Regions from separate parts of the Homo sapiens genome. Here region 1 is linked to region 2. Evidence: fine-mapped expression QTL. A gene starts in region 2. The other region holds a variant in brackets. All regions are shown on one strand. Distances are from middle to middle. Region 1 overlaps LOC124904860 (a long non-coding RNA gene). Region 2 holds the start of LINC03086 (long intergenic non-protein coding RNA 3086).

What was found. PIP is the estimated chance that this variant, and not a neighbour inherited with it, causes the effect.
Region 1: its variant is the best candidate, but not a certain one, in a credible set for the expression of LINC03086 in unexposed skin (GTEx, PIP 0.60).

Annotation. Positions count from the first base shown.
Region 1 is chr20:2,232,725-2,238,215 of GRCh38, forward strand. It overlaps LOC124904860 (a long non-coding RNA gene), which reads left to right. Exons shown (of 2, transcript XR_007067501.1): 2 at 3,696-3,930. Among named protein-coding and RNA genes, the nearest start is that of LINC03086, 29 kb to the left of the region's middle. The variant A/T (reference allele first, on the strand shown) is at 2,916.
Region 2 is chr20:2,204,036-2,209,255 of GRCh38, forward strand. It overlaps LINC03086 (long intergenic non-protein coding RNA 3086), which reads left to right and starts at 2,893. Exons shown (of 2, transcript NR_161305.1): 1 at 2,893-3,484. RefSeq lists enhancers at 2,984-3,484, 3,167-3,286.

The DNA of each region.
Region 1 (5,491 bases), 29 kb after region 2:
TCTATCTGAATGTCCTAAGATACTTCAAACCTAGCATGTCCAACACTGAACTCATTATCCTCCCCACATTCTGGCTGTTTCTTTTGCACACATGTTCCTAGTGAACAGCTCCCCCGTCTCTCCTATTGCCGAATTTATTCTTAACGTCTACCTCTGTTATACCCCCCGCAACTTAACGAGTTGCCGAGTCCTAGAGTTTTTACTGCTTAAATATCTCTCGGTTTTCTTCCTTAGCCCTACTGCCACTTCCTTGGTTCAATTTTGTCATCTTGCTGTAGGACAGTGGCTTTGTAATAGGCCTTTCTCTTTTTTTTTTTTTTTTTTTGGAGAGGAGTTTTGTTCTTGTTGCCCAGGCTGGAGTGCAATGGTGCGATTACGGCTCACTGCAACCTCTGCCTGCAGGGTTCAAGAGATTCTCCTGCCTCAGCCTACCAAGTAGCTGGGATTACAGGTACCTGCCACCACGCCCGGCTAATTTTTTGTATTTTTAATAGAGACGGGTTTTCACCATGTCACCCAGGCTGGTCTCGAACCTCTGACCTCAGGTGATCCGCCTGCCTCGGCCTCCCAAAGTGCTGGGATTACAGATGTGAGCTAACTTGCCCTGCCAGTAATGGGTCTTTCTCTATATAATTGGTCTCTGTATCTGCAAGTTCCACACCACACCCACAGATTCAACCAATTTTGGATCAAAAATCTTTGAAAAATAAAACACATTCAAAAATAACAATATATCTATGTTGGGTTAAGATAAAAAATTATTTTTAATATAAAAGTATTTTTTAAAAAAGAAAATTAAATAACAATACAATTAAAAATTATACAAATTTTAAAAATATAGTATAGCAACTATTTACATAGTTTACATTGTATTAAGAATTATATGTGAACTAGAGATGATTTAAAATGCAGGAGAGGCTGTGTGTAGATTGTATGCAAATCCCATGCCATTTTATACAAGGGACTTGAGCATCCATGGATTTTGATACCCATAGGGGTCCTGGAACCAATTCCTCCCTTCACCCGCTCTCTGCACATACCAAGGGACAACTAGAATCACTCTTTTTTCCCCACTCATCATCTATGCTGTAAAGCTAGCAGTTTTTTTCTCAGTTTTCCTTTTTCTTAAAAACTACTTTTTAACTTTCTGAGATTCACTAAACTATTTATTTATTTTTTTTAGACGGAGTTTCACTCTTGCTGCCCAGGCTAGAGTGCAATGGCGTGATCTCAGCTCACTGCAACCTCTGCCACCTGGGTTCAAGCGATTCTCCTGCCTCAGCCTCCCGAGTAGCTGGGATTACAGGTGCGTGGCACCACGCTCGGCTAATTTTCGTATTATTATTATTATTTTTTTTAGTAGAGATGGGATTTCACCACGTTGGCCAGGCTGGCCTTGAACTCCTGATCTCAGGTGATCTGCCTGCCTCGGCCTCCCAAAGTGCTGGGATTACAGGCGTGAGCCACTGCGCCCGGCCAAACTGTTTCTTTTATTTAAAAAGTAATAAATGCACATGGTAGAAATCCAAACAGTACTGAAAGATATGCAATAAAAAGTAAGTTCTCAGCTGGGAGTGGTGGCTCACGCCTGTAATCACAGCACTTCGGGGGGCTAAGGGGGGCGGATCACCTGACATCAGGAGTTTGAGACTAGCCTGGTCAACATGACAAAACTCCATCTCTACTAAAAATACAAAAATTAGCTGAGTGTGGTGGTGGGTGCCTGTAGTCCAAGTTACTCAGGAGGCTGAGGCACGAGAATCACTTGAACCCGAGAGGTTCTATGAGACCAGATCGCTACACTGCACTCCAGCCTGGGTAGCAAAGTGAGACTCCGTCTCAAAAACAACAAAAAATGTAAGTTCTCTCGTGGTTCCCTTCCCCAGAGATCCTTACTGTTGACATTTGTTGTCTCTCCTTCTACAAGTTTTCTCTGCCTGTAAAAGCATATCCTTAAAACATACATGCTTTCCACACCTCACACACAAGTGGGAATCCACTGTACACACTGGTCTGCACTCGGCTCTTTTCATTGACTATGTTACCTTAGAGAGCTTTTCTCATCTGTAAATGCTGGTCTCTCATTCTGTTAGAGCACTGTAGTATTCCAGTGGATGAACGTATTTATTTAACCAGTTTCTCTTGATGGATATTTAAGTTATTCCTAGGTTCCTGCTATTCTGAAGAGTCACCTTTTGAAAACGCAAATGTGCTGGGTCCGTCCCTGGCTCAGGCATCTTAAATGACTTCCTGCTGTTTACAGCTAGGCCTCCAGCTGGGGAGTCATGGATGCAAGCAGGTTGCCAGGGATACCCGAGGCCTCAAGAGAAATAATGGCATGTGTTCCTGGAGTTCTATGTAAAAATGTTAATTGAACTGCTAAGTGGTTAAAATGTTTTATATGGAGTCAACACAATTCTATTATGGTGTCAAATATAGAATTCTCATGCATTTTTCAGATGGTGGTGGGAGACTTCAAAAGAAATTTGTGGAGGTTTTTTCAAGCTACACTTCCAGATTCCCCTAAAGGCTCATGTTTTCCTTTCTTGCCTGAAGGACATCAGTGGAAAGATCTGAGCACCCAAGTCCACAGGATACAGCCAGAGCCTACTGGCATAGATTTGAGAGTCCACGTTTGATGCACGTAGAACTACTTGCTATTTTTCCTATTCCCTTTGCCTGGAAGGTTTCTGTCCTTTTCCATCTGGTATACTTACTACTCATCCCAAAAGGCAGTAAGTACAGCCTACTGCTGAAAAGTATGGACTTTGGAGCCAGACTGCCTGGGTTTGAATCCTGACCATGTCATATTTCTAGCTGTGTGATCTCGGGCAAGTTACTTAGCCTCTCTGAGACTCAATGATCTCATTGTAAAATGTAGGTACTGAAAGTAACTGGTAAGACTGTTATGAGGT[A/T]TAAGTGGGTTAATATACGTAAAGTGCTTAGAACAGTGTTTGGTACGTGGTTAGCACTTGATGAAGGTATTGTTGTTAATGTTATTATTTTTATTACTCAAGGTCTAGTTTCCATGATTCTCCCAGGTACCTTCTTCTGCCTTCCCATAACATCTGCTTACAGTACTCAGCACAATATTCTGTACTTTCTCCTCCCCTTTAGGGACGTGCTCTTTTGCAGAGAGGACCCTGTCTTATTTATCCTCATATCCCTTGTGTGGGATGCATACTAGACAATCAGTTGCTGTTGAATAGGTGTTAACTGAATGAGATAATAATTATAATAATAACATAATTATTATAATAATAATCTGAATTATTATATCTGTCTGTCTATTTGATTATGCAGTGACCAGTGATTTTTGGCCCTAAAGGGGCTTTTCACAGACCCCAACATGGTTTGTAAATAAAAACTTCACTGTAGAAACCATTCACACTAAACCAGTGCTTCTCAAACTGCGTTCATGCAGTTTATGGGCATTTTCCGAACACAGGTTCCCTAGGTTTGGGAAATTCTAGGTTACATAAAAGTAAACAGATATCTTAGAGCCTTTTCTAGGCTCATGTCCATAGAGGAATGAGTGGAACGTGGGATTCGGTTAGTAAATTTCTTAATCTTTTTTGACCAGAGCGCTTTTTTTTTTTTTTTTTTTCGCGGAAGGTGAAAACATCTGGTGGGTTAATTCTATGGAATATAGTTGTTGATAAATTGCACGAACTTAGCTCCATTCTCTCTTCCAGCTGATTTGCCTAGAGCCTGGGAGTGTCACTGACGTGCCATTTCCTGCCCTGACAGCATCTCCGCTTCCGTCCTGAAACCTTTATCAAGAAACAACTGTGCAGCCCACGAATCCATTCAGTCAAGATGTATTGAGTTTCTGCTATGTGTACTGACTGCGGGGAAAACAGGATTCTTGTCCTCGAGGAACTAGCTGGGGACTCGGGACAGAGTCAAACACATGCAACATGAGGCCTGGTATGTTAGATGGGCAGAGAGCCGGGACACTGCTGGCTGCGCAGGGAGATGGGGGCCGGAACGTTTTTGAGGAGGATGAGGCTTTGATTTCTCTGGTCCAATCCTCTCAGTGTCAAGGTGGGTAGGTGGGGAGATTAAAGTCTAGAGAGTGGTAGGTGTTTTGTTTTGTTTTGTGAGCTCAAACAGGTAGTCAGGGGCAGACTGGGAACAATATTGTATTTTCCCATTGCATCACCTGCCTCTGAGGCTCAAGTATCAAAATCAGAGAATCCGTTCACACAAAAAGACGAAACCAGGGAACACTTCCTTCCTTGTAGCTGCCTGTGGGTCCCTGAACTTGTTGAAGGCCATTCTGGGTTGGATATCTTTTCCGCTTCCATTTTCCTATCAATGACTCAAGACCATGTCTTATTTTTATACACATTTGTTTTCTCATAGCTTCCTTCTCTAATCATTTCTTGGCGAAGATGTTTGTGGCTTACAACATGCTGCAGTCAAAGCAGGGCACGCTTTGGAAGCCAGAGGGCGAGGTTCGGCTGGCTGCGGTTTGCCAGTCTGGTAATTGCCAGTGGGAGGAAAGTGACACAGCGAGAGCAGGGCCTTCAGAATGCCAAAGAGTTTGCGGTACTGCGGTCCCTGGTGTTCTGTGCAGATACTAAGCTAACAGGAATGTAATACAAGCACAGCAGATTGGAATGAAATAGGCCACCCACTCTCACTCCAGGCTCCTCAGTAGCTGCCCTGCCTGCTCATCCGGGGGCCCAAGGCTCACTCGGTGCCAAGGAACTAGCGTCAACTCCCCAAGAACAGCACTGCTCACTTCCCCCAGCAATTCTTCCCTGCTTTCAGAATGAAATCCACATCCATCCTCTGAGCCTCCCTGGTCTTCTGTCCCTATCACAACGTCTCTTCTGACCTCCCTATCTGCTCCGCCTGCTTTGTCAAGAACATGCCCCCAGCTTTCCCTGTCTTGAGCGTTTCCTGACACTGTCTTCTGCCTCTGTTTGTTGAAATCCCAAGACTTTTTCAAGGCCCATGAGCCATTCACAATTGTGTTCAGCTGCATATAAGAGAAGTGCTGCTATTTGGCTGAACCAAAGAGGGATTCTTTTATTTCATGCAACAAGAAGTGTGGGGACAGGCAGTCTAGGGCTGGGGTGGCAGCTCAGGAATGATTCCATCCAGGAACCAGGTTCTTTCCATGTGCTCACTCCTCTTTCTTTCTTTCTTTCTTTCTTTCTTTCTTTCTTTCTTTCTTTCTTTCTTTCTTTCTTTCTTTCTTTCCTTCCTTCCTTCCTTCCTTCCTTCTTTCCCCCCTCTCTCCCTCCCTCCCTCCCTTCCTCTTGAGACAGTGGTCTCATTCTGTCACCCAGGCTGGTGTGTAGTGGCACAATCACGACTCATTGTAGCCTCGTCCTTCTGGGCTCCAGCAATCCTCCCACCTCAGCCTCCTCAGTAGCTAGAACTACGGGCTCACTGCACCCTCTGCCTCCCAGGTTCAAGCGATTCTCCTGCCTCAGCCTCCCGAGTAGCTGGGACTACAAGAACCCACCACCATGCC
Region 2 (5,220 bases):
CTGACTTCTTGCTTTTGAATTAAGACGCAAACAACTTAGGATGGTGGACAAGCCCTTGCAGGATCAGATATCGGTCCACCTCATTCATACTCCAACAGCCTCCTCCAACCCACTTCATTCCAGCCACACTGGCTTGCTTTCATCCCATGAGAAAGGTCAAGTCTTTTCCCACTTCAGGGCATGAATTGTGTCCTCTGCCAAGAACAACCTCCTCTTTGTCTGTCTCATCCTTCACACAGATTAAAAGTGAGTTTCTCAGTGAAGCTCTCCTTGACCCCCACTTGTCAGGTTACCATTGTCCCAGGCTCCCACAGAATTCTGGATTTTCTCTGCAGTGGTTATTACACATTGCAGTCACTGGAGCGATTGTTTCATATGCATCTCCCCCACCAGACCAAGAGCTTCTGGAGAGCAGGGGCCACATGGAAGATGCTCATTCCTGCATCCCCAATGCTCAGCCCAATTCCTGGCACAAAGTAAGTACTCGATAAATATTTAATGAATAAATAAACTCGTTGCATTTGGCTGTTTCCTCCATTTGGAAGGCCCTTTTCATTCTCATCCATCTGGCACGTTGAGGCCAGCCAGCTCCTATATCGCTCTGATTAGACTGTGAATTACTTTCATGGCAGGACCTGTGTTCCCAGTGCCTGGTAAAGGGCATGGCGCACACAGCAAGCCTGCCGGTTGAAGCAGATCATTTTTACTTTGCTGCGTATCCAGGTCCTACATCACTGCCCTACTGAAGGTTCTTGAGTCAAGAAGCAGATGAAAAAATTATCAACCTTCTGTCTGATTCATAATGACTATCACCGGTAGTCATTTATTTTGTATGATTTGTCTATAAATCATACAAAATAAAACTGACAATGGTTAAGATGGCACCTGTGAAATTTGTTATGAACTCAGAAGACTCACATCTTAAAGGTAACACTGGAAATTACAAGAAGCAAAGGAAATCAGATCTGGTTGAAATAATCAATGCAAACTAAAACAGACTGCCCACGTAAAATTTGCTCCTTACTAAACATTTGTAGAGGACTGCCATTGACAGATTTTTGGACCCACAAAATTTTGCCAAAGGAAATGGAACTATGGCGGCTGGGCATGGTGGCTCATGCCTGTAATCCCAGCACTTTGGGAGGCCAAGGCAGGCAGATCCCTTGAGCCCAGGAGTTCGAGACCAGCCTGGGCAACATAGTGAAAGCCTGTCTCCAAAAATGAAAATCAACCAGGCGTGGTGGTGCATGCCAGTAGTCCCAGCTAGTTGGGAGGCTGAGGTGGGAAGATTGCTTGAGCCTGAAGGTTGACGCTGCAGTGAGCCCTGATGGCGCCACTGCACTCCAGCTTGGGCAAGAGGGTGAGACCGTGTCTCAGAAAGAAAAGAAAATAGAACTTGCTAGTGTCAATGCCTTTTAGCCAAAGACCACCAGGACACACCTATAGTTGAACAAGTTGGGTTGCACTGAGGGAGAGTACATACCATGACAGAACTATGGGGGGGTATCTTCGAAAAGAGGTGTTATAAAGAACCTATTACTGGATTTGAGCTTTTATGGGTAATTTAAGGAGGGCCTATGGAAGTTGGATTCGCCCTAGATTGGAAGTGGTCAGGAAGCAGGAGCCAATTCCATGATTGGGTATCTCAATAAATCTAATCTATAGAGAAGGCAAACTAGAAGAAAGATAAAACTGTAATTAGTTAGCAGGGGGCCGGGCACGGTGGCTCACGCCTGTAATCCCAGCACTTTGGGAGGCTGAGGCAGGCAGATCACGAGGTCAGGAAATCGAGACCATCCTGGCTAACACAGTGAAACCCCATCTCTACTAAAAATACAAAAAATTAGCTGGGCGTGGTGGCGGGCTCCTGTAGTCCCAGCTACTTGGGAGTCTGAGGCAGGAGAATGGCATGAACCTGGGAGGCGGAGCTTGCAGTGAGCCGAGATCCTGCCACTGCACTCCAGCCTGGGCGACAGAGCGAGACTCTGACTCAAAAAAAAAAAAAAAAAAAAAGAGAGAGAAAAAAAAAAGAAGTAGCAGTCACTCATTTTCTCCAAGACGGGTGTTTGGTATTTTGTGAGTGGCACAGTGACTGTGTTTTTGTCTGTGCTTAGACAAAATTTCAAAGTAGATTTGCTATGTCTCACTTTATCAGGCTCTCTGTAACCATATCTGAGGTTGTTATTTTGTGACGCTACGTACAATAGGAGGATAACATGGTGGACCTGTGATGCCAGGCTAGCTTCTGAATGTCGGGGTTCCCTTTTTTTTTTCTTTTTCAATAAAATAAGCATGAAATACAAAATATCACAATGATGGAAACCAAAGTAAAATTCGACATACAAATTTTAAAGAAGTAAAATCTTTATCATGAAATTTATATGTAAAAGAATCACTCAGTAAAGACAATTTCCATAAAATAAAAATGGATATGGATACTATTTAACTATGTTGTATTAAAAAAAACTGATCAAAGAATTGGTTTAATGGAAAATGCTCTGGAAAATTCTTTTGCAACAGTTCATCGCTGTTGATATAATCCTAATTAAAATTATCGGACTCCAGTTTTGGTGGAGATGTAAATTTGCTAGTGTCTTTGAAGAGCAATTTAGTCATATTCATGAAAATTAAAATTGCATGTGGCCTTTGACATAGAAATTTTACTTCTGGAAATTTACAGAGAAAGTTGCACGTGTGCACGTACATACAAGGATATTACCACTCCACTCTAGTATTTTTTGTAGTAACGAAGATTGAACAAACATTAATGTCCTCCAGTAAGAAGCTGATTAAAATTCAGTATGAGACATCCATTGTACCCAAAGCTAGGTGGCCTTAAGAAGGTCAGTGTCGCTCAGCGACAGGGCTCGGCCCCCCCTCGTGCAAACCCACCCCGAGGTGTGAGGCCAGGAGTGTGCGGTCACGAGGCGCCCGGGAAGTGTGTCCAATGCCCGAAGCAGCCCCCACCCGGGCGGTCCTGAGTCCGGGTCGCGCTCTGGTGTATCTCTTTTGACGTCTGCTACCCACAGCCTGGGGCAGGAGAGTGGCGACGGCGAGGAGCAACTGCACGCGACTTGGGACCTTGCCCTGCCCCGCGGCCCGCGTCACCATGGCAACTGCAGGCAGCCAGCACCGACGGCGGGAAAACGAGGACCGGAGCCGCGTTACAGCCTTGGCCTTCGAGCAGCCCAGGGAGAGTCTCTGCGTCCTCCAGCCCCCGCTTCCCTTCATGTCGGAGGTCCTAAGCCCGCAGCGAAGTCCGCAAAGAGCTTTCCCCGACGCCTACGAGACCGGAAGTGCCTGGGCCCAGGTGGAGGAAGGACCCGCGTGGCCGCCTCCGCGCTCTCCCTGGGGTCCGTGCCCCTTCCGGCGTTTCTCCCGCGTCCTTCACCATGGCAACTCGGGCGTCGGGAGCGTGGGCTGCGAGCCGAGTGGGTGGGGGAGCCGCCGGGCTCTATCCGCCAGCCCACGAGAAGTGACGCAGGTGACGGGAGGCCGCAGGGACCTGAGGGCGGAGAGGGGAATTCAGAAAGTGCCGGGCGGCGGCTTCCGCTTCCTCTGCGGGGTCTCTGGGTGGTCGTGGCTGGGAGCTGCCGGGGCCCGGTGGCCGTGCGCCTCTGCTCCGGGCAAGCTCTCCCTGCAAGGCCCGGGCGGCGGCAGGGGGCAGTAGCGGCCCGCGATGCTCAGAGGCTCGCTGGCACGGAGCTCCCGGGCTGGGGCGTCCAGATCTGGAGAAGCCGGGGGCCTTGGTCACACTCAGAGCTGACGTCCAGTGCGGCCCTTGCTGAGGACTCGAGCGAACAGATCTCTACCCAGCCCCCGCCCCACGCGCACCCAGCCTGGGTCAGCTCGCCCTGCCCGCAGCCACGCAGCTGGTGGCTAAGCGCGGGCTCCGGGTTCAGGCTGCCTTGAGCTCTGTTGGTTCCCTCTGAAAGTGCTGATAATGATAGCAGGTATCTTGGGATTGCTTTGAGTATTAAACGAGTTAATCGTACTTAGTACAATTTCTGGACTTAGTTTCTAGCACGTGGGAAGTGCTCATGGGCTTGCCTGGGGCAAGTTAGTTGACCTCTCAACCTTGCCTCATTAAAAAGTGGGGATAATAATAGTACCCACTTAATACCGTTATAATAATTACAGTAGTTAATATTTGTAAAGCCCCTTGCCTTCAAGAACTTAGGACATTAAAAAAAAGATTGTGAAGTCCCTAGAATGGTGCCAGGCACATAGTAAGCTGCCTCTATTATTACCATGGTCATATTGTTGTTATCACTATGTTAAATAAAATTTATAAGAGGCTATTGGTTTGGACTGAGCTCCTGCACTATGCCCAACAGATCAACCCAACATGGAGTCACTTATGCTGAAGTTCCGTGCCACCAAGCTGAAACTAAGTTGCTTATTTGACTTTCCTAGAAATTAGGAGAGAGAGACAGTTAATATAGCCAAATGCCCAAGTAAACCAGCTTTAGCTGGCATGATGAGGAAGTCCTCTCTGCTTTAACCTTTACAAGGAAAATAACTTTGAAACAACCAATTCGCTTTTTGTTCTGTGTTTCTGCTTTCTTCAGCCCTTTTCTGTCTATAAAGCCAGCCTCCTCAGCTCAGCTCATCAGAGCACTCATTCTGTTTTATAGAACGAGGCATCGGCTGATTCTAGAATGCAAATATAAGCCAATTAAGATTTTAAACTAAATTTCTTGTAATTTTTGTCTTTTGACAACTATTATCGTCTGTTTGCCTTGTGAGGTTGGAAAGGATTGCACTTGTCCTGCTACAAGGACTCTTAGTCTCTGGCTGGATTACAGAAACATTTGCCTGCATTTCTCCTTTTATTTCCCAAAGTTTTTCAGCGTCTTACATGGTTCTGTAGAAGAGGCAGGATCGTGTCCTTAAAAGACCACTGGGCTGTGAGTCAGGTGGATTTTGGTCTTGATAATGCTACTTGGGCAGGTCACTGTTTCCTCATCCATCTGTAAGCCTCTTTCAACAAAGGGTAGCTGGTATTATCTATTATGCATGTTTAGCCTTTCCGGTAAGGTAATATATTTAGTAAAACTAAATTAGCATCTGTCAGCAACTCTCCAGGGTAGTAGGAGAAGGTGGCAGGTGCTTTGAGGAAGTTACAGATGAGAAGCTATGGGATTCTGAGAAGGGAGAGTAAGCTTCTTAATTTATACTTTAATTTCTAATAAGTAGAAATGTCAAGATGTACGGGGG